Homo sapiens: one gene and its partners. The protein of the gene in region 5 purifies or fractionates together with the protein of the main gene of each other region. This does not show direct contact. Each region holds a gene or a part of one and is shown on either strand. Other genes may lie near its edges.

Region 1 (4,103 bases), on a different chromosome or scaffold from region 5:
AAAAACACACACACGCACCTGAAATAGATGAGACAGAAAAAAAAAAGAAGAAAGCAAAAAGAAAGCCAGGCGAGGTCCCATCTGCTGCCCCTCCTCTGGGGGGACAAGGAACCCACGACCACCTCCCACCTTGCCTTCTTCAGAGGGCCCAGGACTGGGCTCAGCCCCGCTTCACCCTCCTTTGATTCCCCACATTCAACAGGAAGACTAAGTCCACAGCCGTCACTCACCGGACAGATGGTGCTGACAGTTCAGCACCGCTCAAACTCTGTAAGGAGACGTGACAACAGAATCTGTCATGGGATCCTGGAATAGAAAAGGGCAGTGAGGAGAAAACTCTGCAAATCTGACTCAAGCGCGGACTTTGGTTAATGTCAACAATGGTTATGTGATCGTGGAATTGGCTCATTAATTGTAACAAATAGGCCGGGCGCGGTGGCTCACGCCTGTAATCCCAGCACTTTGGGAGGCCGAGGCGGGCGGATCATGAGGTCAAGAGATCGAGACCATCCTGGCCAACATGGTGAAACCCCGTTTCTACTAAAACTACAAAAATTAGCCAAGCATGGTGGCGCACACCTGTAGTCCCAGCTACTCGGGAAGCTGAGGCAGGAGAATCGCTTGAACCCGGGAGGGGGAGGTCAGTGAGCCGAGATCGCGCCACTGCACTCCAGCCTGGCAACAGAGCGAGACTCCGTCTCAAAAAATAAAAATAAAAATAAAAATAAAAGAAAATAAATAAAGTAACAAATATACGACATCAGTTTAAGATCTTAATAACAGGGGAAACTGGGGGAACTCTATCTATTTTTTCAATTTTTCTAAATCTAAAACTGCTCTTTTTTAAATTTTCGAGACGGAGTCTCCCTCTTGTTGCCCAGGCTGGAGCAGTGGTGCGATCTCGGCTCACTGCAACCTCCACCTCCCGGGTTCAAGCAGTTCTCCTGTCTCAGCCTCCTGAGTAGGATTACAGACGCCCGCCACCACATCCGGCTAATTTTTGTATTTTTAGTAGAGACGAAGTTTCACCATGTTGGCCAGGCTGGTCTCGAACTCCTGACCTCAGGTGATTCGCCCGCCTAGCCTCTCAAAGTGCTGGGATTATAGGAGTGAGCCACCCCGCCCGGCCTAAAACTGCTTTTTTTTTAAAAAGCCTATTAAAAAAGAAAAAGTTGCGGAAGCCGGCTGCCTTTGGAAGCCCTTGGAGTATGCTGTTCAGGTGGTCTCTGCGCACAGGCCCTACCCAGGCCTCAGCTTGGCCTCCTGGACTTCCCAGCCTCCCCTCCACCTTTGCAATTCACCAGACTGGGGGCCAAAGCGGCTTCAAACGACCCTGGAGGGTGGTGCTTTCAAGGTCTTGGGACCACGGACTTGTCTGAAAATCCGAAGGCGTTGGATCTTCTCTTCCCCAGAAAAATGCACCCGCTTTCAGAGGTTCGTGTCCCACGCTTTTCTTTCTATCCCAACCTTGTAAGAAGCCGCCGCCGTGAGCGGAGCAGCACCTTCCTCCGCGGGTCGCGGGAGTCACCTACGGGAAGGGACTCTCCGTCTGGCACAGGCCCTGTCTGGCCTGGGGCGCGCATGCTCCGCCGCCGAATCTTCCAGAAAGCCGTGGACCCGAGGCCCCGGCAGACGCAGGCGGCCCAGCGCCTTGCTTTTGGCCCCTCGCCTCGCCCTGGAGCCCTCTCTCGCAAGGTAAGGGACTGCCGGGAACGCAGATCGCAAGCCGTCGGGGCTCTGTAGAACTCAGAGGCGCTCGGCGGAAAGCTCGCCAGGCGACCCAGACCCGAACCCGCGGGCTCCCCAAGACAACAGCGCCGGGCGGCCGGATGCACGTGCGTCCCGGGAAGGCGGGTTCAGCTGGCATCGCCTGGCCGGTTCCGTTCGCTCCTTAAACCACAAGACCCCCTTGGGGTCACGACGTTCCCGGGGCACCCCTGCACTCGCGCGCCAGCACTCCCGGAGGGGCCTGGGGAAGGCCACGCGCACGGAGAGCGGGAAACTCCTCTAGGTTTCCAGGTGGGAGATCCAGACCCTACTGAGACCCGGAAACCGCCGGCCACTCCGCCTCCGGAAGCGACACTTTGGGACAAAGCTGGGGACAAGTAAGCCCAGAAGATCCTCGGGAAGCCGAGAATTTCGCGCTCCGCTCTCCCACCCACGCTCCGCCTCCCGCTTGCATCCTACAGCTCAGCTGCGGTCTCGCCTGGGGCTCAGGGAAGTGAGGTCCCAGGAAAACCTCCATCCCCCGAACGCAACCTGGGCAGAGCCCCGCGTCCCTCCCCCAGCGGGCACCCACCTCGCGTGCCGCCCGCGCAACGACAGCGTTTACCGCCACCCCACACGGTCCGCCAAAAAGGGCGATTTGCAAACAGCCATTTCCCATCCACAATGCAGCGAACTCAATGCTGGGCACCGAAACGTGCATCTCCCCCGGATTCCCACCCCGCGTCCCTGCTCCACGCTCCAGGACTCGCCGCCAGTGGGGTCCACTCCGCCGGCGCGGGGGCTGGGGTGGGAGCCCGGGGCCACGTGCACGGCCAGCCCCCATCTTCTGGGCGGTCAAGACCGCAGGCGTGGGCGCCGGTGGGGCGGGGGTCTTGGGAGACCCTGTCTCGCCGCCTTTCGGTGCAGATGATGCAACTCTGGGCGGAGGCGCGGAGAGGGAAACCGGGACCCAGTTGAGATCCTCTGTCCAGAGAGGGGAGCGAGTCTCGGTGGGGCCGGATCTCACCTGGACGGATACATGGAAAAGAGGGGCGAGCGGCTGCCCCGACTGCGGCGAGGCGGAGACGGCGACCCCGGGGTGGCGGCCTCGCGGGGACCCACGGCGAGGGGAGCAGGCGGGCGGTGATTGGCGGAGAGGCGGGGGCGGAGGCCGGCGCCGGCCAATGTCTCGTGGCAGAGCACCCGCCCCCCCAGCCCCTCCTCCACCCCACCCAGCCCGGGCCCCTCCCCCCCACCCCTTCCCCACCCCGCCGCAGCCTGGGACCCTCCGGCCTGCCCGACCCCCGCCCTCCCCGGGACCCCGGCATGCCCCCACCCCAGTCCGCCCGCCCCATTCCCACGCCCTGTTGATTCAACCGCAGACCCGGGTCGCCGCCCCCTCCCCCGCCTTCCTCTTCGCCTGAGCCCGCCCGCCCCGGGTTCCAGCCACCCCCACCCGCGGACCCCGGTGGTGTCTTCTACCTGGTGTTCCGATGCTGTTTTACTTGGTTAACTTCTTGCCCTTCGGGAATTTAAGGAACCTTTACTGATGAGCTTGAAACGTGCGTCCTGGTGGGTGGGGGGCCCTGCGCGTCCTCGAGGACCGACCCCGAGGGCGTGTGTCGCGGGCCCGGGAGGGGGCGCCGCGCCGGGGCGGGACTCGATGGCCGCGCTCTGTGGCCGCCGGACGCCGTGCGCAGCGCCCCGCGTGACCGCGCCCAGAGCCGGGTCCGAACCCCGAGCCGAGGCGCAGAACAGTCGCCTTGCGCGGCTCCGGTGCGGCCCACGGCCAGGGGCTGCCGGGCGCTCTCGGGGACGGGGCCGACTCCGCGCAGGGTGGTAGCAGGGGCGCCCCGCGGGGCTCCTTCGCCAGGTCCCGGAGGCCGCGGGCGGGGCCGTTTCCCAAACATCGTGCTCTGGACTTTCAGAGGCTGAACCTGATCCCCCCGCCCTATGGCTAAATGGGGGATCCCAGGCCCCCGAGTCTCCCCCCGGACCTGCAGCGAAAGACACGGACGGTGCCCATCAGCTCTGGGCAGAGGAACGTGCTGCGCCTCCGCAGCGTCCCCGGCTCAGGTCAGAGCGATGCTCCGCAGCCTCCTCCGGCCCGCGCAGCTCCGCCGCGGTCTCTGCCACGTGGGGCTCACAGTAGGGGAGGGAGTGAGACGTGAATTAGAATTAAATGTCCACTGGCAGGAACTGACACGAAGAACAATAAAGCCGGCGATGTGGGGAGGGGACAGGGATGGAGTTACATCATGAAGGCTCTGGAAGGTGGCATTGGAGGCCGGGATCGCGCCACTGTCCTCCAGCCTGTGCGACTGAGCGAGACTGTCTCCAGAAAAAAAAAAAAAAAAAAAAAAAAAAAAAAAAATCCTGTCCAGTCTTTATAAGAA
Region 2 (4,072 bases), on a different chromosome or scaffold from region 5:
GTATGCAGTGAATGAAGATGGATGAATGACTTCCATTGGAAGATGGATAAATGACAGCTGCACTGAGAGATGCAGAGATAGGAGGATGAAGGAATGGGAGGTGGGAGGGATGGAGATAGGAATAGATGGAGGGGAGGAGGATGAATGGGCAGCCCACTCTGCTCACCTGAGTCTCATATTGATTCTCGATGTCCTTTCTGTTCTTAGCAATGAGCTGCTCATACTCCTGACGCATGTCATTGAGGGTCTTGGTGAGATCTTTGCCAGGAGCAACGTTTATCTCCACATTGACATCTCCACTGTTCTGCCCAGTCAGCTGACTCATCTCCTGCCAGGGAAGAAGGGGAGATGAGGTCACGGATAAAGTCCTCTGCACCACCTTTCAGAATTCTCCCTCTGGTCCCCCCAGGGTACAAAAAGGGGACACAGTTGTGAAGCCAAAGCCCAACCACTACCATAGGTGATGCCAAGGAGAAGTTGAAAGTGTCCTCAAGAGCAAAGGAGAGGGTGTCTCCCAGGTAATGTTCCAAAGCTCCCCTGCTGTCTCTGCATTTCTGCTCCTCCCTCTTCCCGGTAAGCCATAAGCCCCAGCAACCTACCTCCTTATGATTCTTCTTGAGGGCCATCAGCTCCTCCTGCAGAGTCTCATACTGCATCTCCAGGTCAGACTTCTCCATGGTCAGATTGTCCAGCACCTGCCGCAGGCCATTGATGTCAGCATCCACTCCTTGCCGCAGGTTTTGCTCCATCTCAAACCTGCAGACCAGCCAGGGTTAGAAAACAATCAAGAGGGAACCAGGCCCTACCAGGACCTCCAGAGCACTGAGGTTCAGGGGTAAGGGCTGATGACAGGAGAGGAGAAGAGGAGCAGGACTCACTTTATCCTGAAGTCATCCAGTGTCATGCGAGTGTTGTCAATGTCCAGGAGAGTTTTGTTGTTGCCCACTGTCAGGTCCACAATCTGAAAAAAAAAGGACACAGCCATGATATCATGCTGTGGACCACTGCTGAGAGGGCAAGAGGCCAGGCAAAGCCACAGGAGGTGAGGATTCCATCCAGGAAGATTCTCAAGAGGAATGAGGAACTTCCAACAGCTGGGACATGGCACAGACCCCTTCCAGCCTTCAGCGAAGATGTTTGGTGTGGCCTTCATTCATTCATTCAACAAATATTTGAAGATCTACTGCAAAGGGCATTGTAGGATTTAGAGATTACTGACATCCTGTTCCTCAGGGAGCCCACCATTGACTACAAAGTCAAAAGTGTCCTAAAAGAGTTCAAGGAAAGGAGAGGTGGCTTATGGCAATGGGAGATCAAGAAAGACTTCAGGAAGGAGGTGGCTGGCAATTGAATTGGGCCCTGAAGGATGGCTAAGATGTAACATTAATAAATAAATGGAAGAGGTTTAGAGTAGAAGAAACAGCACATTCAGAGACATGCAGGAGTTAAAACAAGAGGAATCACTGAGAATACTGAAGAGCCAGACCGTGAGCTCCACCAGAACTAGGTCTAGCACATCACTATGTCTACCCAGAGCAACCCTGAGGGTAGGCACTCACTGAACTGAGTGGCTGAATAAATGGATAGATAGATAGACATGTGGGTGGAGGGAGGAAGGGATAGATGGAAGGATGGATGGATAGATAGCTTCCATTCCCAGATTTCTGGATCCTCTCCAACACTTGAATAACCAACATGTACAGTCAGGTCCAAAATACCTTAAAAGATCAAGATACACTCCTAAAGAAGCCCAGGAGAAGTACAAAGGAAGAGAAAGTATTGACTTAGACCAAACCTAAAGGAGGTTCCACATCCAGTCCCAGCTCAGCTCACGTTAACCCAGGTCTCCTCTCTGCTCTGCCCAAACTCTGAAAGTTGAGGAAATGGAAGTGAACACTCAGAGCACAGGCCAAAGTCCTATCCTGGGATCCCCAGAAACCAAACACAAGTTTGTTTCTGATGAAAGCGTACATTTCCAAAAGGTGGATTCCCTGGCTATTATCTGAGCTTAGAGTTTAGCATTTTAACTTTTTTGGAAGATAAAGAATGAAAGAGAAAGAGACCAAGACAGAGACAGTTTCCTGCACCTACCTGGTCCTTGAGATCATCAATAGTGTTATAATAAGGGGAGTAGTTCTTCTGGATAGCAGCAGGTCCCTTCTTGTCGTACCAATCCTGGATCTTATTCTCCAGGTCGTTGTTGGCCTCCTCTAGAGCCTGCACCTTATCCAAGTAAGAGGCCAGCCGAGAATTGAGTTCCTGCATGGTGCTCTTCTCATTAGCAGTCAGAATACCACCATCACCTCCTCCAGCACCACCTCCAAAGCCCCCAAACCCCCCAAACCCACTCCCATAGCCACCACCAAAGCCACCTCCAGAACCACCACCAAAGCCACCTCCAAAACCCCCAGAACTACTATAGCCTCCTCCAGAAGCACCACCAAAACCTCTGGAACCACCCCCAAAGCCACCGCCTAAACTACTGGCACTAAAACCACCCCCAGATCCTCCGCCGTAGCTGTAGCCAAAACTGCCACCGCCTCCCCTCCCACAGACACGAGAGCTTCCCCCACCATAGCCACTAGAAGAGCTGAATCGGCCCCCTCCTCCACCGCCCCCTGAGGAGCTGAAGCGGCTGTAGGAAGACCTTATGCTGCCCCCGCTGCCCAGGCCGCCCCCGCCACCCCCGCCGCTGCGGCTCAAGTAGGACGAGGAGAACTGTCTGCAGCTCATGACACAGCTGGTAGCTCACGGGTTGAGAAGCAGTGATAGGAGTGCTACCGGCTCCCAAGTGCAGGGTACAGAGCTGTCCCTGGGGCTGCCTACTTATACCCCCAGCTGAAGGTGGCACGCCTGGGTGTGCCCTTGTTCTGTGCCAGCCTCCCCCCACAGACCCGAGGGAGGTCTGGGATACGGAGGCAGCCGGGCTGCCCCAGGCTCAGCGTCCTTTGGTGACTGCCTGGGGGCGGCCCAGCCTCTCTCCATTGTGTGGGATAATTTGATGACATTAGGCTGTCAGGGCCACCATAAATCAGCTGTACTGCCACAGGGGTGACCTAGATCCTGGAGTCTGGTCTCTGGCTGGCCCCAACAGCAGGTCTGAGACTTAGCCCCTTCGGGATAGAAACTCCCAAGAGCAGAGTCACCTCCTCTATTGATGGTCATTACTGTCTGCATCCCTCATGCCTCCTTGCTCCCACCTTGTGCCCACTGTGAGCTGAGCTGGAACTAGGGTACTAAGGAGTTATCATAGAGGAGGGGGAGGCACAGCCCCTGCCCTTGTGGAGCCCCAAATGGATGAAAACCAATCCTTGCTCTCAGGATCCTCGAGGCTTTCTGCAGAGTCTGAGGCTCTGCCCTTGGGAGACTCCAGTTTGATGAGGAGGCAACTGGCATGGCCAAAAGATGGAGACGGGCACCGAGACCATGCCCGCCAGCACTAAAGGACAGCGTGCAGAGTTCACACAAAGGGCTGGAAGAAGAAAGTGGACCAAATAAACAAGGTGGTGCTGACACTAGCTGACCTCTGAGCAGGAATGCAAGTGGCTCGACTGTCCTGGTCCTTTTGCAGGGCCCAGCAGGGAGTGTGGAATTGACCTTGGTTGAGTGCCTACCCCATACAGAACTCTGGAGGGGATACAGAGATGTGTGACTTATCCCTGCTCCTGGCAGAAACTTGGATGTATATTCTGGTCACCAAGGCCAGAAGAGAATGGTAAAGAACACGCTGGTCTCCGGTGTGCCTACCTGAGCTCCATCCAGCTCCATGCTCATGAGCTGTGTGACTTTGATAAGTTACTTAAATACTCTGTGCCTCAGTTTCCTCCTTTGAAAAAGGTTGATATGAGTAGTTTGTCCATCTCCTAGTAAGAGACTTGTGAGAAGTGCTCAAAAAATGTTCGGCTGCCTCTGATCATTCAGCCCCCTAACTCCCCGTCAACTCTGCCCTCACCCAGACCTTAGCCATGAGCTTCTAACTGCCCTCCCTGCCTCTCCCATTCCCTCTGACTCTTCCTGCACAGCAGCCAGAATGACCTTTCTAATCCATGTCTGACAACATCACTTCACCAGT
Region 3 (2,564 bases), on a different chromosome or scaffold from region 5:
TTAAGAACCATTTTCATCTGATTTTTAAACTCACGATACCAGTTATCTGTTAATCAAAATTGCATTTTACAATTTAATAATGTGATATTTCCTATGTCTACAGCATACCTTATTAGGTATAAAACCTACTGCAACTTAGAAAAAGGAAAGAAAAAAGAAAACTTTTCCAACTGCTGCATTAAGATAGGGTGGATTTTATGTGCTTTTTTTTTTTAAGAGTTGAATTTCTTTTCCTGACTTTTACCTTTTACAGCGTATTACTTAGTGAACATTACATTTTCAGAATAGATCCTAATATTTTATTGAGGGCCTATGTGCTAAAAACTATGCATATCTATATATTGGCCAATTATCTTTAATAATTTACCTTTTGAAATTGCATGTTTATCATATATCCTTAAGTGGACACATACAGTGCCATGTTGATGTGCCTCTCAGTTTTATTGAAAAGCTGCCCCACAGCCCATGTCTCTTGTTCTCTGCAATGCCTCAAGGGAGTGAGCTCTCAACCACAGATAGCTGTGGCTTCTCAGAAGCAGCTCATTGCCAAGGCCAGGCTGAGAGGGGACCTGCTTGCTGTGGTGGTTGCCTAGCCCAGATGAGCATTTACCTACCACCTTCCCACTTGGCTAGCTGTCCTTTGGATATGTGCTGTTAACTGGGGAAGGCATCTAACTAGTAGCCTGCTACTCCATAGTATGGCTCAATAGATGACACATCATTTTGACATTATCAATAGGAGAAAAGAAAACTAACCCTTCTTCTGATTGTTTGGAGCCATAGTTGTCTCAGATGTTCTAATTCTCTTTGTATGCTTGGAAACAGCATAGATATGTTGCTGTGGTTTTCAGAATTTTCTCTTTTAATCACAAGAAGCCTTTTAAAAAATGACTTACACATATTCTCAATGTACAGTAAAACAGACAGAAGTGAGCTTATCTGTTTGATGCTGTGGCAGGGTCCCAGTCACTGGGCATATCCTCCTTCTCCTTAACCAGCTCCACAGCAGCCCCTGAGTCACCTGCACAAGGTGCTTGGGAACTGCTGGTTATGAGCATTCCTGGTTTTCTTCAGCCAAATAACAGGTAATCACTGTCAATTGGATTTGGTCTTCATTATTTTATATTCTGATTTTATCAGAATTATTCTATTTTAAAATTGTTTTAAAATTTAAAACATTTAATTCATGATCATGTTCATCAGTAGATGCTATTATTCATAAGAACTGTGATTCCAGCAAACTAGGGTAATTGGTGCCTTTTTACAGTTTTGAATAAAAGCATTTACAATTTCTAAATTATCAGTTTTCACAGTTTCAGCACTCAACCTCATCATACGCTGATTTAATATTGTTTTACATTAAAATAGTCCTTTTCCCTGTTGTGCCACCATTCATTTAAGTGCTGTTTGTTCTTAAAATGCATTTAAAGAAAAATTACCCATATTGACTTTCACACCTCATATAATCAGATCTATTACAAATATATATCGGAGTGACGGTGCCCAGGATAGATGTAATATTTCTTACAGATGCTGGCACAGAGGAAATAATATACCAGCTAATCTAGTCACCTAACCTTGTGGTTAGAATTGCAATTTTAAGACCAGAAAAATTTGAAGTCTGATCAGAGATTTACAACTGTTCATTATAGTGGTGCCTTAGGCAATCTTTCCAAAGTAAATTCAGGGCCCCATTGCTACTTATGCCATATTTGGACATACTTTTTTTTTCTTCAATTTTGTAAACTTCCTGGAAAGCTGTCTTCACTAAGTATCCCCTAGTCTCTATATATGTGGTTAGTAGTCATGGAAATGACACATAAAGTACGCCAGAAGTTTGATGGAACGTGTTAGAAACTGTTTTGTGCTTTTATGGATGTCATACTTGACAATACATGTGTAAGTTACTAATATATGAATTGATGCTAAATATATCTTACATTTGAATTCCTTTTGGATAAAGTTATTTCTTGATGTGACAGAGTAGTGTGTTTTCATTTTTATTCTTTACATGTGACCAAAACAATAGAAAAGTTAAAAATAAAATATAGTGTTTTAGGTGGCCTTTGACTTCATATTTTACTGAATTAAACAATTTGGGGGATATTATTTTATGGGATTTATTTGTTTAAAAGATATTGAGTGGGTCCAAGATACTCTTCTGGGTACAGTAAAGGAAAGATTCTTAGCTTATAGCTAGAATGGCCTGAGATTATCAATCATGTTAAGAAGGATAGTGTAACCACCTAATTTTAAAAAAAATGTTTTAATTGCTTTTGTCATGGGCATTGGGCAGGACTTTGCCAGTGGTAACCAAGACAGCCACGATTGCTGCCTTTGTAGAAATAATGGTCTAGTGGGGGAGAGAAAACATTGAGCAAGTAATTATAGAGATGTGAGATCTGTGCGTGAAACAACATACAGTAGAGAGAGACCTAACCCATCTGAGAGGCAAGGAGCACTTCCCTGAGGATGTGCCATGTAAGCTAAGACCTGAAAGTTAGCTAGGTGAAGAAGGTTAAAAGCACTTATGAAGCTGTCAGGCCAACAGCAAGTATAGAGTT
Region 4 (3,500 bases), about 150 Mb from region 5:
GTAAATGCAAGCAGACTACAGTGCAGTATAAGTAAGTTCTCATGGTACAGTCTGGGTGCTATAAACTCTCAAAATTAACAAATCAAAGTTCCTTTCCAAGACAAAGTCTCACAGAAGAGAAACTGCTGGGAGTAGAATCCAAGTTGTAGAATGCCAGACAAAAGAGACAAAGCAGTAAGTTCAGACAGAAGTGGTGGAGAGAAGCAGAAAAGGCACATCTCAGAAAGCACAAGGTACATGTATTCTCACTTTGCAAAAGCCAGAGAAGAGACAGCTTTAACCTAGAAAATGAACTAGGAAAGTTATCCTTGCCCATTCCCTCCCTCCTAAAAATACACAAAAATTCATTTCACTAGTAGACAATAGCAAAGAAAAGGATCTCAGTCAGATTCCATAAAAGTTATTGTGGTGTCAAGAAAATTAGATAGGAAAGGAATAGTCTTTTCAAGAAATGGTGCTGGGAAAACTAGATATACATATGCAAAAGAATAAAGCTGGCCCAGGTGCCATGGCTCATGCCTGTAATCCCAGCACTTTGAGAAGCCAAGGTGGGTGGATCACATGAGCTCAGGAGTTTGAGACCAGCTTGGCAACATGGCAAAACCCCATCTCCACAAAAAATACAAAAATTAGCTGAGCATGGTGGCATGCACCTATAGTCTCAGCCACCCTGGGGGCTGAGATGGGTGGATGGTTTGAGCCCAGGATGTCGAGGCTGCAGTGAGCTGAAATCACACCACTGCACTCCAGCCTAGGCGATGGGAGTGAGACCTTGTCTCAAAAAATAAAAAAATAAAAAAAATAAAGTTGGATCCCTCCTTCCTTACATCATATAGAAAAATTAAATGTATCACAGATCTAAATGGAAAGTAAAACTATGAAACTTTTTTTTTTTTTTTTTCTGAGACCGCGTCTCGCTCTGTCGCCCAGGTTGGAGTGCAGTGGCATGATCTCAGCTCACTGGGTTCATGCGATTCTCCTGCCTCAGCCTCCCAAGTAGCTGGGATTACAGGCGTGCACCACCATGCTCAGCTAATTTTTGTATTTTTAGTAGAGAAGGGGTTTCACCATGTTGGCCAGGCTGATCTTGAACTCCTGACCTCAGGTGATCCACCCACCTCGGCCTCCCAAAGTGCTAGGATTACAAGCGTGAGCCACCGTGCCTGGCCAAAACTATGAAACTCTTAAAGGAAGCATACAAGTAAATCTTTGTGACCTTGAACTCAGCAATGATTTCTCAGTTGAGAAGCCAAAAGCACAATGATAAAAGAAAAAGTAGGTAAACTGAGCTACATCAAAATTAAATACTTTTGGGCTTCAAATGATATCAAGAAAGTGAAAAGAGAACCTACACAATGGGAGAAAATATTTGCAAACCATGTATCTGATACATCACTGTGTCCACAGTGCTTACAATAGCCTATAAGTACATGAAAAGATGTTCAACATCATTAGTCGTGAGAGGAATGCAAATCAAAACCACAATGAGGTATCACTTCATACCACTAGGATAGCTAGTATAAAAAAGTAACAAATGTTGGTGAAGATACAGGAAATCAGAACCTTCATACCTTGCTGGGGAATGTAAAATGGTGCTGCCACTTGAAAAACAGTTTGGCAGCTCCTCAAAATGCTAATTAGTTACCATGTGACCCAACAATCCCACTCCTAGGTATATACCCGAGAGAAATAAAAACTTGCACATTCACAGCAGCATGATTCATAATAGCCAAAAAGCAGAAGCAACTGAAGTGTTCATCTGATGAATGTATAAACAAAAAGTGGTATATCTATACAATGGGGTATCATTCAGCTATAAAAGGAACAATACATTGATACAAGAAGTATCAATATGAAGGATGACCCTTGAAAACATTATGCAAAGTGAGAGAAGCCAGTACACAATTGCAAGATTCCATGAAATGTCCATGAACTGTCCATAACAGGCAGACCCAAAGAGATAGAAAGTAGATTGATTAGTGGTTTCCAGGAGCTGTGGGGGTAGGGGAGAATGTGGAGTGACTGCTAATGGGCATAATTTTTCTTTCTAAAATTTGAAAATGTTCTAAAATTAGATACTGGCAATTAGGCGTGCCTCTGTGAATATACTAAGAACCACTGAATTGTATACTTTAAAAGGGTGAATTTCATGGTATAAGGGTTTTGCTCAATAAAACTGTTACTTAAAAAGAAACTTATTTTAAAAGAAGAGATAAGGTGATCTAAAAAAAAAAGTGATAAAGAAGATCAGCAAAAGTACATCTACAATGGCAGGTCCTGAAGAAGAAAACCAAAGCAGTAATACAGAACAAATACCAAAAACAACTCAAAAGAACTCTCCTAAAATGAAAGACAGCTTGAAACTACATATTGAAAGGATATCCTGTGTATCTAGGAACACTGACCCTCTAAAGAAAAGGGAAAAAATCATTTGATCACCCACATTTTTTAAAAAGACCAAATCGCAAGTAGGAAAAAGAAAATCAGATTGTGATCAGATTTTGTGACAGCAATGCTTTTTTCCAGAAGTCCACAGAGTAACTAAGGTATGCAAAGAAAGAAAACGTAAGTCATGGATTTTATAAACAATCAAACTAATCTTCATAATCATGTACTTTTGTGGAATATGGGAATAATGCACCTGTGGGCACCTTCTGCATCACGTACTATAGAATGAGCTTCAGATGACCAAAAAGACTGAAGAGACGTTAACGTAAGGTCTGGTGGATAACCAAATCATTTATGAGGGTAAACGTCTCATTACAGAAACATAAACTATCTGCAACCACACACATTAATATGAATGACACCACAGGAATGCAAAATCGAGACTGAGAAACCCTACAGGACCAACTTGACAGACACCAACCTGGTTTCTTCCTCAAGAATAAAACAGCAAGAAAAAAAAGAGGGATGCAAGCCCTACTTTAAAGAGGAACTTAAAAGGTATGTCAATTGTGGCTGGGCTTGGTGGCTCAAAATCCCAGGACTTTGGAAAGCCGAGGAGGGCTGAGGCAGGCGGATCACTTGAGGCCAGGAGTTTGAGACCAGCCTGGCCAACATGGTGAAACCCTGTCTCTACAAAAAATATAAAAATTAGCCAGGCATGGTGGCGGGCGCCTGTGATCCCAGCTACTCAGGAGGCTGAGGCATAAGAATCACTTGAACCCAGGAGACAGAGGTTGCAGTGAGCCAAGATCGTGCCACTGCACTCCAGCCTGGGCAACAGAGTGAGATTCGGTCTCAAAAAAAAAAAAAAAAAAAAAAAAAAAGAGATATGTCAATCGCAAATGGATGGCCCTCCTTTGGATCCTGCTTCAAATAAATAGTAAAAAGAAAAAAAAAATTGAACACTGATAGGCCATTTGACGAAAATAAGGAGCCAATGTTCATTTTGGGGCATTTAATAATGATATGGTAGTATTTTTTAAAGAGGTTTTATTTTTTAGAAATACATAATGAATATTTATAGTTGAAATGGTATGTATAGGCTTGATTTT
Region 5 (3,500 bases):
AACATCAGTAAAGACCTGTATGTAGGACTGCAGTTCTAAATGCCCATCTATCATTTTATTTGTGTAAGACCATAGTTACATATTTATCAAATATATCCAACTGCTTCTGCATTAAGAACTACCACAATTTACTTGAAATTTAGTAGGTATGACCAAAAACATAGGGTTCAGACGATCTCTGCTTTTCTAATTCTCTCCATTCTCTTACCTTGAGAGGTGGTACTTTTCGCACCTGGATTCTGTCCCCTCTATTGAGAAAGGGCTGTGGTGAGACCTGAAATGGCTGCTGGTGCTGGCGATTCTCAGTGACACGTGGCCTCTTCTCCCAGCTCACAGGGGCCTCTTCTTGGGTGAGGGAAGACTTCCTCTTGAGGCTTTCTGGGCTCTGATCAACAAGAGTTGCTAGAGGTTCTTTCATATTAGTCTCCTGTGGACCCGCTCCTGCTGTGGGCTTCACTATTGGTTTTTCAACCCCAGGACTCTTGGGTTTGCTTGGCGATGTAACTAAAGATTCTTGGCTTTCACTTTTGTTATAATTAGAAGCTGTGGTGAGATGGTTCTTCTCAGATTCCTGTTCAGCAGAGGTGACTGGCTTCTGCTCCAAGAGATCCTCATCCTTTGGGCACTTGATGGGAAGAATGCTGCTAAGCTCATGTGTATTGAGAGCTGAGGAAAGCAGGGGCTCTGAAGATGTGGAGAAGTTCGGCTGCACTTCACCTTGGCTTTCACACTCTTCTTTTCTGCCTGGTGATGACATTTGCAATGCTTCTTCTTTACACTCTGACTGGGAGACTACTGGAACTATTCTGATAAGAGAGGCCTCTGACACAGGCATGGATTTTGGTTGTTCAGCTGGGGTTTTCTTTACTTTGGGATCACTGGGAGAAGCTGTCAATTTCTTAGAATCTTCAAGGCTCAGGCCAGAACTAAAAAGGGGAAAAAAGAAATATTCCAGTTGAAAAATAGCCCATGTTGCGAAAGCATTCATTAATAGAGATAATGGAAGATGACAATGCCTAGGAGAACCCCTGACACAGCAGGTATTCATGTATTATCTTCACTATTAGTAGTAGTGAAAGTTCTGGAGTCAGAGTGCCTGGATTCAAATTCTGGCTCTGATACCTACCGTCCGTGTGATATTAAGTAAATGACTAGCCTTCTTTACTTCAGTTTCTTCAATTGTACACTAGGTTTAATTACTTCATAGTGTTGCTATGATAATTAAGTTAATCCATATAAAGTACTTGCCTAACACATAATGAAAGTTCAGTAATAGTAGTTATTATTACTTCTGCTTATAGAGGGGCCACATTGTCTGGACGCATGCATCACAGACTACCTGCAAGGGAACTGAAGGAAGCCCAAGACCCTTCCACCCTGTGATTGTGGTCAACTCTTCTCTGCAATATCTGTGCAAACCCAGGCCCAAAAAATCTAAGAGGACCTGAGGAGACAGCTGGCTGTCAATGTTCTATAGAGGCTGAGAATTATAGCTGAGTTTTGGAAAGCCCATTTAAATCCCACTTGGTTTAGCTCTAAAATTCTGAGATCGAGTGTCTCTAAGCTATTCTGAGGGTATAGTTCCATTGAGATATCCATAATGTGGCTTGGCTAAAAGCTAGGCTAATCTGTAAAGGTCATTAGTGACTCTTCTTAATGTTTTAGAATACTGTACAACATGTAAAATCAATGAGCCTTCTTTGGTGACTTCAAAGAGTCAGTACTGTGCTTCTGAGATGGAATGGTTAGGGACAAAACTGGGCAATAATCAAAAACAGTCTTTCTATAAAAGCTGACAAAAAGTAATAGTTGAAAATAGAAAGACCCACGAACTGTTGTAATCCTCTATCTGCTTAAGAAGGAGGGAATGGGCCAGGCACAGTGGCTCATGCCTGTAATCCCAGCACTTTGGGAGGTGGGCAGATCGCTTGAGCACAGGGGTTTGAAACCAGCCTGTGCAACAGGGCAAAACCCCACTCCTACAAAAAATACAATAATTAGCTGGGTGTGGTGGCATGCACCTGGAGTCCCAGCTACTCAGGAGGCTGAGGTGGAAGGACTGCCTAAGCCCGGGAGATTAAGGCTACAGTGAACCGTGATTGTGCCACTGCACTCCAGCCTGAGGGACAGAGTGGGACCCTGTCTTTGAAAAAAAAAAAAGAAAAAGAGAAAAAAAAGGAGGGAATGAACAAATATTTGTAGAATTACTGCTACCTGCAATAATGGTCTAAATGTACCAAACATCACTTCTATAGCTCAATGCTCATACCAAAAATATAGAAAAATCAGTTTATAGAACTCTTTTTTTTTTTGAGACAAGGTCTCACTTCGTCGCCCAGGCTGGAGTGCAATGGCGTAATCTTGGTCACTGCAACCTCCGCCTCCCAGGTTTAAACGATTCTTCCACCTGAGCCTGGGTCTACAGGTACGCACCACTACACCCAGCTAATTTTTTGGTATTTTTTTTAGAGATGTGGTTTTGCCATGTTGCCCAAGTTGGTCTCGAATTCCTGGGCTCAAGTGATCCGCCCACCTCAGCCTCCCAAAGCACTGAGATTACAGGTGTGAGCCACCGCAACTGGCCGCAGTTTATGGAACTCTTAATCTCAATAGGAATATTTCCTAAATGACTGTGAAGGAGATGGATAAATACTACTTGGAGACAAGGAAAAGGAGAACTTAGTTTTCAAGCTGTGGTTACGGGTCTTCTTAAGGGCTGCCATTGGTGTGCAGAAGGAAGGAAGGGAGACTAACAAGTAGGAGTCCAAGTGTTCAATCCTATTTCAAACAGAACATCTCCATTACCATCTATTTAAATGTCCCATTATAATTTCACTGTTGGATCTTTTGTTGGGGGGGAAAAACTGATTTAGGCTACAGCCTCTTTTAAACAGAATTTATATCTTGATTCAGCTATGTACATCTCCCAGAGTGCCTTTTACAGAGGAGAGGCTCTTTAATTACAGGTTGGTTCTAATAGTCCACATTACAAAATTCCTAAGATTCCTTAGTGATTCTGGATAGCTACATTTTGGGATAATTAACTACTATAAAAAGTGGACAGAACCTCAGTATTCTGGCTCGGAGTGGTGGCTCATACCTGTAATCCCAGCACTTTGGGAGGCCGAGGAGGGCAGATCACCTGAAGTCAGGAGTTCGAGACCAGCCTGGCCAACATGGTGAAACCCCAACTCCACTAAAAATACAAAATTTGCCAGGTGTGGTGGTACACGCCTGTAATCCCAGCTACTCAGGAGGCTGAGGCAGAATTGCTTGAAACCAGAAGGCACAGGTTGCAGTGAGTCTGAGATTGCGCCACTGTACTCCAGCCTGGGCGACAAGAGTGAAACTCTGTCTCAAAAAAAGAAAAAAAAAAAAAAGAACTAAAGAACTTCAATATTCTTCTATCTTATAAAGTAACCAGAAGAAAAACCAATCTTTTCAAAGAAAGGGACTCTTAATTCAAAGTTTTTTTAGAAATGTATTTTTTTTTTTTTGAG
Region 6 (3,500 bases), on a different chromosome or scaffold from region 5:
TTATTAGCCAAATTGGTAATGTTGAAATAGCAGCCATGGTATAAAACCAGAGGATTACTAATGTTCAGATAACCATTTCTCTAAGCATTTAAGGATAGTGTTATCTACACTTGAAAGTTAAAGTATGGAGGAGCAGCTTGATCTAATGGAAGCTCTGGCTTTAAGAGTCCAGAGAGCAAGATTCCAGTCTCTGCTGTTTCATTAACTTTAGTTAACTGTACAAATCCTGTGTCTGAGTACAATATATGCACTTTTTTTGTACCATGGTTTCTTTATGCTAATGTCTGTCATGGTAAATTACATTCTTCAGTTCTCATGTTAGATGTTTGTCTTCGGATCACAGGTACCCTCTTACCAATTATACTTTTGGTACAAAAGAGCCCCTCTACGAGAAGGACAGCTCTGTTGCAGCCAGATTTCAGCGCATGAGGGAAGAATTTGATAAAATTGGAATGAGGAGGACTGTAGAAGGGGTTCTGATTGTACATGAGCACCGGCTACCCCATGTGTTACTGCTGCAGCTGGGAACAACTTTCTTCAAACTGTAAGTAGTGTTGGAAATTAACAGCAAGACAGTTTTTAGTAGGATTGCTGTTTATGCAGCTCTGGAATACAATTTTAGCCCTCGGTCATTCATTTCAACAAACACTGCTGTTAATGATGTCTTTAGAAAGAGAAAATCATGAGTAATTTTTCTCCATTGCAGTGCTCATTTATTTTCCTAACTAGTAATCTGTATGTTTCTGTATGTTGTTGATGTTAATGATTGAGCTTGGTAGAAACCCCATGGAATAGTTGAGTCCAAGATCAATGTCTAGATGTCATTGTAGCATTACCAAGAACAATTGATATTTCTTTCTTGGTATGATTAGCATTTCCTGTTCTTAAGATGACTTAGGTTTTTGTGGATAACAGTTTAGTGTTTTATCATTTAAGCTCCTACATCTCTCAAACATTTGATCCGTAACTATTTGACTAGATTATACCAAAAAGAAAAGTCTCCAATACTTAGATGACGTTCTTGAAAAAGTTTCCCATTCTTTAGGCCTAAAGAATGTGATCCATTCCTCTCTGAGCATTTCTAGACTCCATTATCATCAGATAGCTCCCAGAGAGGAGATTGGGATGGACTGGTGGTTAGCAATTTTGTTTATGTTTGTGCTATGTTATATATTCTGTTTGTTTAAAACTAGGGTTTATGTGATGGGTACATATGGACATAAAGTTGGAAAAAATAAACACTGTATACTCCAAAGGTGGGGAGGGTGAGGGGGAGGCGAGGGTTGAAATACTTCCTATTGGATGTTATGTTCACTGTTTCAGTGATGGGTTCACTAGAAGCCTAAACCTTAGCATTACACAATATACCTATGTAACAAACTTGTACATGTACCCGTTGAATCTACAATAAAATAAAAATAAATATATACGAAGAGGAAAAAAACCTAGGGTTTGTATACTGTTAGTCTGGGGAATTGACATGAATTCAAGCATATTCTCCCCCTTCACTTTGATACTTGTTTTGATTGCCTTATTATGCTGAAATATGTTCTTAGTGACTTGGTAGAAATAACAATTATTGTGTTATTTGTTATCTCCAAATTGTATTAAGTTGAAAGCTGAAATTCTTAACTTTTATACAGACCTGGTGGTGAACTTAACCCAGGAGAAGATGAAGTTGAAGGACTAAAACGCTTAATGACAGAGGTATTTTTCTGTTTAACCACTTTGAATACCATCAACTTACTAGTTATTTGGCTTTTAATGTCTTGTAAAAAGGATGCTTATTTTGGAATATTTAGTTTTCAATAAATACAACTTAAACTCCAGAAGGTTAGTACAATGTTGATTTTTTTTTACAAGTTGAAGTTACACTTATTTCAATTTTTAAAATGTTAAACTGTGTCACAGCAATGGTAAATTAAAACTGACATTTAAGTATTACTGTGCTAGACACTGTTCTGAGTGCTTTACATGCGCTAATTCCTTTAATCACCACCACAACTGTAGGAAGTAGATATTATTAAGTTTAAATTACTTCTTGTTATATAGCTAGTGTGTTGTAGAGCCAGAGGTTTGAATGCAGGTAGTTTTGTTCAAGAGTAGGCCTCTATAGAATTTTGAAAAGAGAAAGATGCCTGTGTTTTCACTTTTTTCACATATTTTTTAGACTTTGCCCAAATTATTCTACTTTTTAAAAATCATTGTAATGCCTGCATGTAAAGACTTGGGGCCAAATGCATAGATACTGAGGATTTTGAGATTGTAAATTGTTTTCAATGTTAGTTTTCTTCTTTAACATTCAATTGCCGCCTGCCCCTGTTACAAAGCTCATATATTCTCTGTGCAAAAAGCTTGGCAAACACAGAAAAGCAAAGGAGAAACAAAACTAAAGTCACCCGTAATTCTCCCACTTTTGACCTATTGGTTTGTCTTTCTAGTATTTCTAAAAATGTATTATAACTCTTAAACATTTTCCTGTGCTTGGACTTCCATTTATATAATGTATGGTACAAAGATATAAGTCCATTAAGGTTGAGGGAGTGCAAAATGAGAGAATCACAAAAGCAAAATTTTTGGAAACTGGAAAACAGATGGGCAAATTATAACTAACTTAGCAGAAACCTTAGTCCAGCAGACAGGCAGGCAGAATCTAGCATTGCAGAGTACCAGAATGACTGAGGAACTGAAGGTGCTAGGTACTTATGAAAGTGGGGGCATGCATGGGCTGAAAACTGGACTGGTTCAAAGTATATATGGAGTATATTTATACAGGTTGTGTATTCCTTATCTGAGAGCTTGGGACCAGAAGTGTTTAGCTGCTATTTGATAGCACAACAGGGTGACTATAGTCAATAATCACTTAATTGTAAATTTAAAAATAACTAAAAGAGTATAATTGGATTGTTTGTAGCACAAAGGATAAATGCTTGAGGGGGTGGATATCCCATTCTCCATGATGTGAATATTACGCATTGCATGCCTGTATCAAAACATCTTGTGTACTCAAAAAAATTAAAAATTAAAAAAGTGGTTAGGATTTGGGATTTTTTTCAGGTTTTGGAATATTTGCATTATACTTACCAGTTAAGCATCCCATATACAAAACTTGAAATGCTCCAATGAGCATTTCCTTTTTTTTTTTCTTGAGACGAAGTCTCTCTCTTGTCACCCAGGCTGGAGTGCAATGGTGCAATCTTGTCTCACTGTCACCTCCGCCTCCCGGGTTTAAGCGATTCTCCGGCCTCAGCCTCCCGAGTAGATGGGATTAAAGGTGCCTGCCTCCACGCCCAGCTAATTTTTGTATTTTTAGTAGAGACAGGGTTTCACCATGTTGACCAGGCTGGTCTAGAACTCCTAACCTCAGGTGATCTGCCTGTCTTGGCCTTCCAAAGTGCTGGGATTACAGGCATGAGCCACCACGCCCGGCCTGAGCATGTCCTGTGAGCATCATGTCAGTGCTCAAAAAGTTTGAGATTTTGGAGTTTCAGATTGGGATG
Region 7 (3,500 bases), about 150 Mb from region 5:
ATGGAGGTCAAAAGAAGGCTAGTTCATTGAGTCAGCTGCCAATATTACTTTACAGAAATAAACACTGGAATAATAATGGCCTCTTCATGTTATACAAATGACACAATTTATTCATATAAAGTTCTGATTAGTGCTCTAAATTGACCAGGTAATAAAATATGATGTGGGGGTAAATACCATTGTAATACTCAAAGATACTGTATCCACTGTAATAAATATACACATCAAAAGTCTATTTTTTTCCATCTAAAGACAGATCAAGTTATGAAGAAATTCTTTGGCTTATACAAGTTCTTAGAGATAAAATATATGATCAGCAAAAAAACATAGCTAAGTGTATAAAAACAGTGAAATGCATTTTATGGTTTCTATTTTGCCAACACAGTTACAGTTAACGAGAATTGTCATGACAAAATGATTGCTTTTATGAAAAGAACCTTCTTTATTACCAACCAATCAAATTTCATTTTTATTACTGATGTAAAAAAGTTCAAAACCATAATTCATTTATAGAGCGTACAAAAATAAGAAAAGTGTTCAAGAATAGAGGAGAGGATCATTTACAAAGCAATAAAAAATTAAAGCATGCATCCCTTTTACTGGCAAGGCAAATACTTCTATATATGAATGTCTATAGCTGGATTTACTGAATATTATAACTTCTGTCTTTGAAAAAAAAATGAGAAGCCTGAATTTTCAATATCTCATCTCTATTTGATATCTTCAGTCCATCTGATAACTGCTTATCAAGAAACTTCAAAAATGTTTGAAAAATATTAAAAAGTTTGGTGGCGTTTTCTTTCAATTTTCACCAAAATATGGCAAGCTTGGGCTAACGTTAATAACTCAAAAGTCTTCAAAGAAATAAGACTGACAAATTTTATGGGGCACCCATCACCAAAATCTTTTAAGTTAAAAACTAAAAATCATGTAATTTCAGAGTATAAAATGTTAATAAACCACATTAAGTAAATTAAAACTCATATTACAGCCTATGAACTATTTCATTAGCAGAAAACAAGCCTCTGAAGGGATCTTATTATCAAAGTTTTCAAAAATTTACATAATATTGCTGTTAAGAATTTAGTTTTGGCCAGGTGCAGTGGCTCACACCTATAATCCCAGCACTTTGGGAGGCTGAGGCGGGCAGATCACATAAGGTCAGCAGTTCAAGACCAGCCTGGCCAACATGGTAAAACCCCGTCTTTACTGAAAATACAAAAATTAGCCAGGTGTGGTGGTGGGCACCTATAATCCCAGCTACTTGGGAGGCTGAGGCAGGAGAATCACTTGAACCTGGGAGGCAGAGGTTGCAGTGAGCTGAGATCACCCCACTGCACTCCAGCCTGGGCAACAGAGCAAGACTCCATCTCAAAAAAAAAAAAAAAAAAAAAAAAAAACCAGTTTCAACCTATTCAGCAATACAGTATAATAAAATACAGGATCCACTGCTGTCAATAAACTATATCTTGCCTCTAGTCTGAAGTATAACCTATTTTGTCACTATTTTGCTTTACCATCTGCACCATTCAATCTCAGCTTCGTATCTTCAAGGTCATAAGCACAACTGTGTAAGATTATTCATATGACTAATATGTTTTTTTTTTAATTCTCTTAAACGTGACGGTCGGTCCAATAACTTTTTAATAATTCCTCAGTGCCTTCCTCAATACTGGAAAATCCTCAGAATACTGAGTAAAAATAACAAAATATCTTTATTTTCAAGAGCAAAAGATTAAAGGCTGGGCACGGTGGCTCACGCCTGTAATCCCAGCACTTTGGGAGGCCGGGGTGGGCAGATCACCTGAGGTCGGGAGTTCGAGACCAGCCTGAACAATGTGGAGAAACCCGGTCTCTACTAAAAATACAAAATTAGCCAGGTGTGGTGGCACATGCCTGTAATCCCAGCTACTCAGGAGTCTGAGGCAGGAGAATCACTTGAACCCAGGAGGCGGAGGTTGCAGTGAGCCAAGATTGTACCACTGCACTCCAGCCTGGGCAACAAGAGCGCAACTCCATCTCAAAAAAGAGAAAAATGAATTTAATGCATTGTATTTCTTCAATTATCTGTTGCAACTGTCATCATTAAATATTCTGATACATGGATATACAAGCCTTTACCATCATTTTCTTCATTGTGAGCAATAGCATCACTTCTATATTACAAAAGCCTTTAAACCTTTATTTTCTACTTCCTTTAGCCTCTGGAACTCTTCTGAATGCTTTTCAAGTCCAGATTCCCCAGTACTCATGTGAGGAGGGATGGAATGAAAACACTTTATTACCAATATAAAAACAAATTTTTAAAAACATACCTGTTTTAATCACACTTTCAAGATGCGTACATATGGGTTCCATGGAACGCTGCAAAACTACTTTCCTAGCTCATACTATAAATTAATGCTACTGCTTAAATGAAGTTATTAATAAATTTAAATAATTAAGCACCCAAATGCCCACAACGAGATAAATGGAATATTCCGACCATTCTTTTTTCATCCTTTATATAGTTTACTGAGCTTCTAAATAAAGAACAGAACAGATATTGTTCTTATTTCAAAAGATTAATAAATTATAGTATGATGAAACTAACTGATGTGCTTAAAATATGGCAAGGCACCGGTGGAGTAATAAATCAGAAAAGATGGTATATGAGTAAAGAAAAGTAAGAATACTTTGGGCATTTTCTGCTGTCCAAAATGGTAATGGGATACTACATGTTAAGAGTTAATATCCTCAAAGGACCCCTTACTATAAGGTGAAAGGCTCTTGGGCAATAAAAGTAACAATAGAAACTAACATGTACTGAACATTTATTATCTACCACCCTATACTAGATACTTGACATACATTATAAATATATTATCCCCTTTTACAAATGAGGAAACTGAGGACTAGAAAGGCCTGCCAACAAGAAGCAGGGTTGAGCTTACTCCAGCTCTTACTCCAATGACCTTGTTCCTAACCTTTATACTGAGTTTCAGTATTCTTATCCACAAAATACCTAACAAGACCAAATTGTTATTATTAGCAATTACGTATATAAATCATTTAACACAGTAGCTCAAAAGCTTACTCTTATTATCAATAACCAGCTATGGCAATTCTAATTAACAGACCGCCAATATGACCTATACCAAGATTCAATTTTATAATGAAAATAAACATGGCTGGAGCATATCAAATGTATATATCTTGAAATAAACATCCTGGAATAACAAATTATTCTAGGATACATTACTAAGTAATTTTAATAACTGCAATAACTGTATGTAGATACTTCATATTATTGAATTAAATTATCTGTTATTTACAAATAAATTTTTAAAGCTTTACCAAAATTGTATCTTTAAAGTAACACATTATTATTTTCACCATTTTACAAATGAGAAATCTCAGGCTTAAAAAGGCAGTTAATTTGCCCAAGTTCACACAGCTAGGAAGTAGCTGAATAAGAACCCAGGTTAGACCTTTCACTTCAAAATCCATAGAAAGTGTAA

What was found.
Region 1: the proteins of ASXL2 (region 5) and CBS purify together in Homo sapiens (affinity purification with mass spectrometry, with the first as the bait; one study listed by BioGRID). This does not show direct contact.
Region 2: the proteins of ASXL2 (region 5) and KRT9 purify together in Homo sapiens (affinity purification with mass spectrometry, with the first as the bait; one study listed by BioGRID). This does not show direct contact.
Region 3: the proteins of ASXL2 (region 5) and CPNE3 purify together in Homo sapiens (affinity purification with mass spectrometry, with the first as the bait; one study listed by BioGRID). This does not show direct contact.
Region 4: the proteins of ASXL2 (region 5) and DYNC1I2 purify together in Homo sapiens (affinity purification with mass spectrometry, with the first as the bait; one study listed by BioGRID). This does not show direct contact.
Region 6: the proteins of ASXL2 (region 5) and NUDT21 purify together in Homo sapiens (affinity purification with mass spectrometry, with the first as the bait; one study listed by BioGRID). This does not show direct contact.
Region 7: the proteins of ASXL2 (region 5) and MTX2 purify together in Homo sapiens (affinity purification with mass spectrometry, with the first as the bait; one study listed by BioGRID). This does not show direct contact.

What each region holds. Positions count from the first base shown.
Region 1 is NC_000021.9:43,073,036-43,077,138, forward strand, and holds the start of CBS (cystathionine beta-synthase), read right to left. Parts: upstream 2,801-4,103; 5' UTR 2,735-2,800; exon of another isoform or gene 1,468-2,734; intron 307-1,467; 5' UTR 231-306; intron 1-230. UniProt on the Homo sapiens protein: Hydro-lyase catalyzing the first step of the transsulfuration pathway, where the hydroxyl group of L-serine is displaced by L-homocysteine in a beta-replacement reaction to form L-cystathionine, the precursor of L-cysteine.
Region 2 is NC_000017.11:41,569,260-41,573,331, forward strand, and holds the start of KRT9 (keratin, type I cytoskeletal 9), read right to left. Parts: upstream 2,801-4,072; 5' UTR 2,734-2,800; coding exon 2,092-2,733; intron 962-2,091; coding exon 879-961; intron 757-878; coding exon 600-756; intron 329-599; coding exon 167-328; intron 1-166. UniProt on the Homo sapiens protein: May serve an important special function either in the mature palmar and plantar skin tissue or in the morphogenetic program of the formation of these tissues. Plays a role in keratin filament assembly.
Region 3 is NC_000008.11:86,559,435-86,561,998, forward strand, and holds the end of CPNE3 (copine-3), read left to right. Parts: 3' UTR 1-2,064; downstream 2,065-2,564. UniProt on the Homo sapiens protein: Calcium-dependent phospholipid-binding protein that plays a role in ERBB2-mediated tumor cell migration in response to growth factor heregulin stimulation.
Region 4 is NC_000002.12:171,739,469-171,742,968, reverse strand, and holds part of DYNC1I2 (cytoplasmic dynein 1 intermediate chain 2), read right to left. Parts: intron 1-3,500. UniProt on the Homo sapiens protein: Acts as one of several non-catalytic accessory components of the cytoplasmic dynein 1 complex that are thought to be involved in linking dynein to cargos and to adapter proteins that regulate dynein function.
Region 5 is NC_000002.12:25,749,488-25,752,987, forward strand, and holds part of ASXL2 (putative Polycomb group protein ASXL2), read right to left. Parts: intron 927-3,500; coding exon 209-926; intron 1-208.
Region 6 is NC_000016.10:56,444,833-56,448,332, reverse strand, and holds part of NUDT21 (cleavage and polyadenylation specificity factor subunit 5), read left to right. Parts: intron 1-343; coding exon 344-544; intron 545-1,643; coding exon 1,644-1,707; intron 1,708-3,500. UniProt on the Homo sapiens protein: Component of the cleavage factor Im (CFIm) complex that functions as an activator of the pre-mRNA 3'-end cleavage and polyadenylation processing required for the maturation of pre-mRNA into functional mRNAs.
Region 7 is NC_000002.12:176,275,942-176,279,441, reverse strand, and holds part of MTX2 (metaxin-2), read right to left. Parts: intron 1-3,500. UniProt on the Homo sapiens protein: Involved in transport of proteins into the mitochondrion.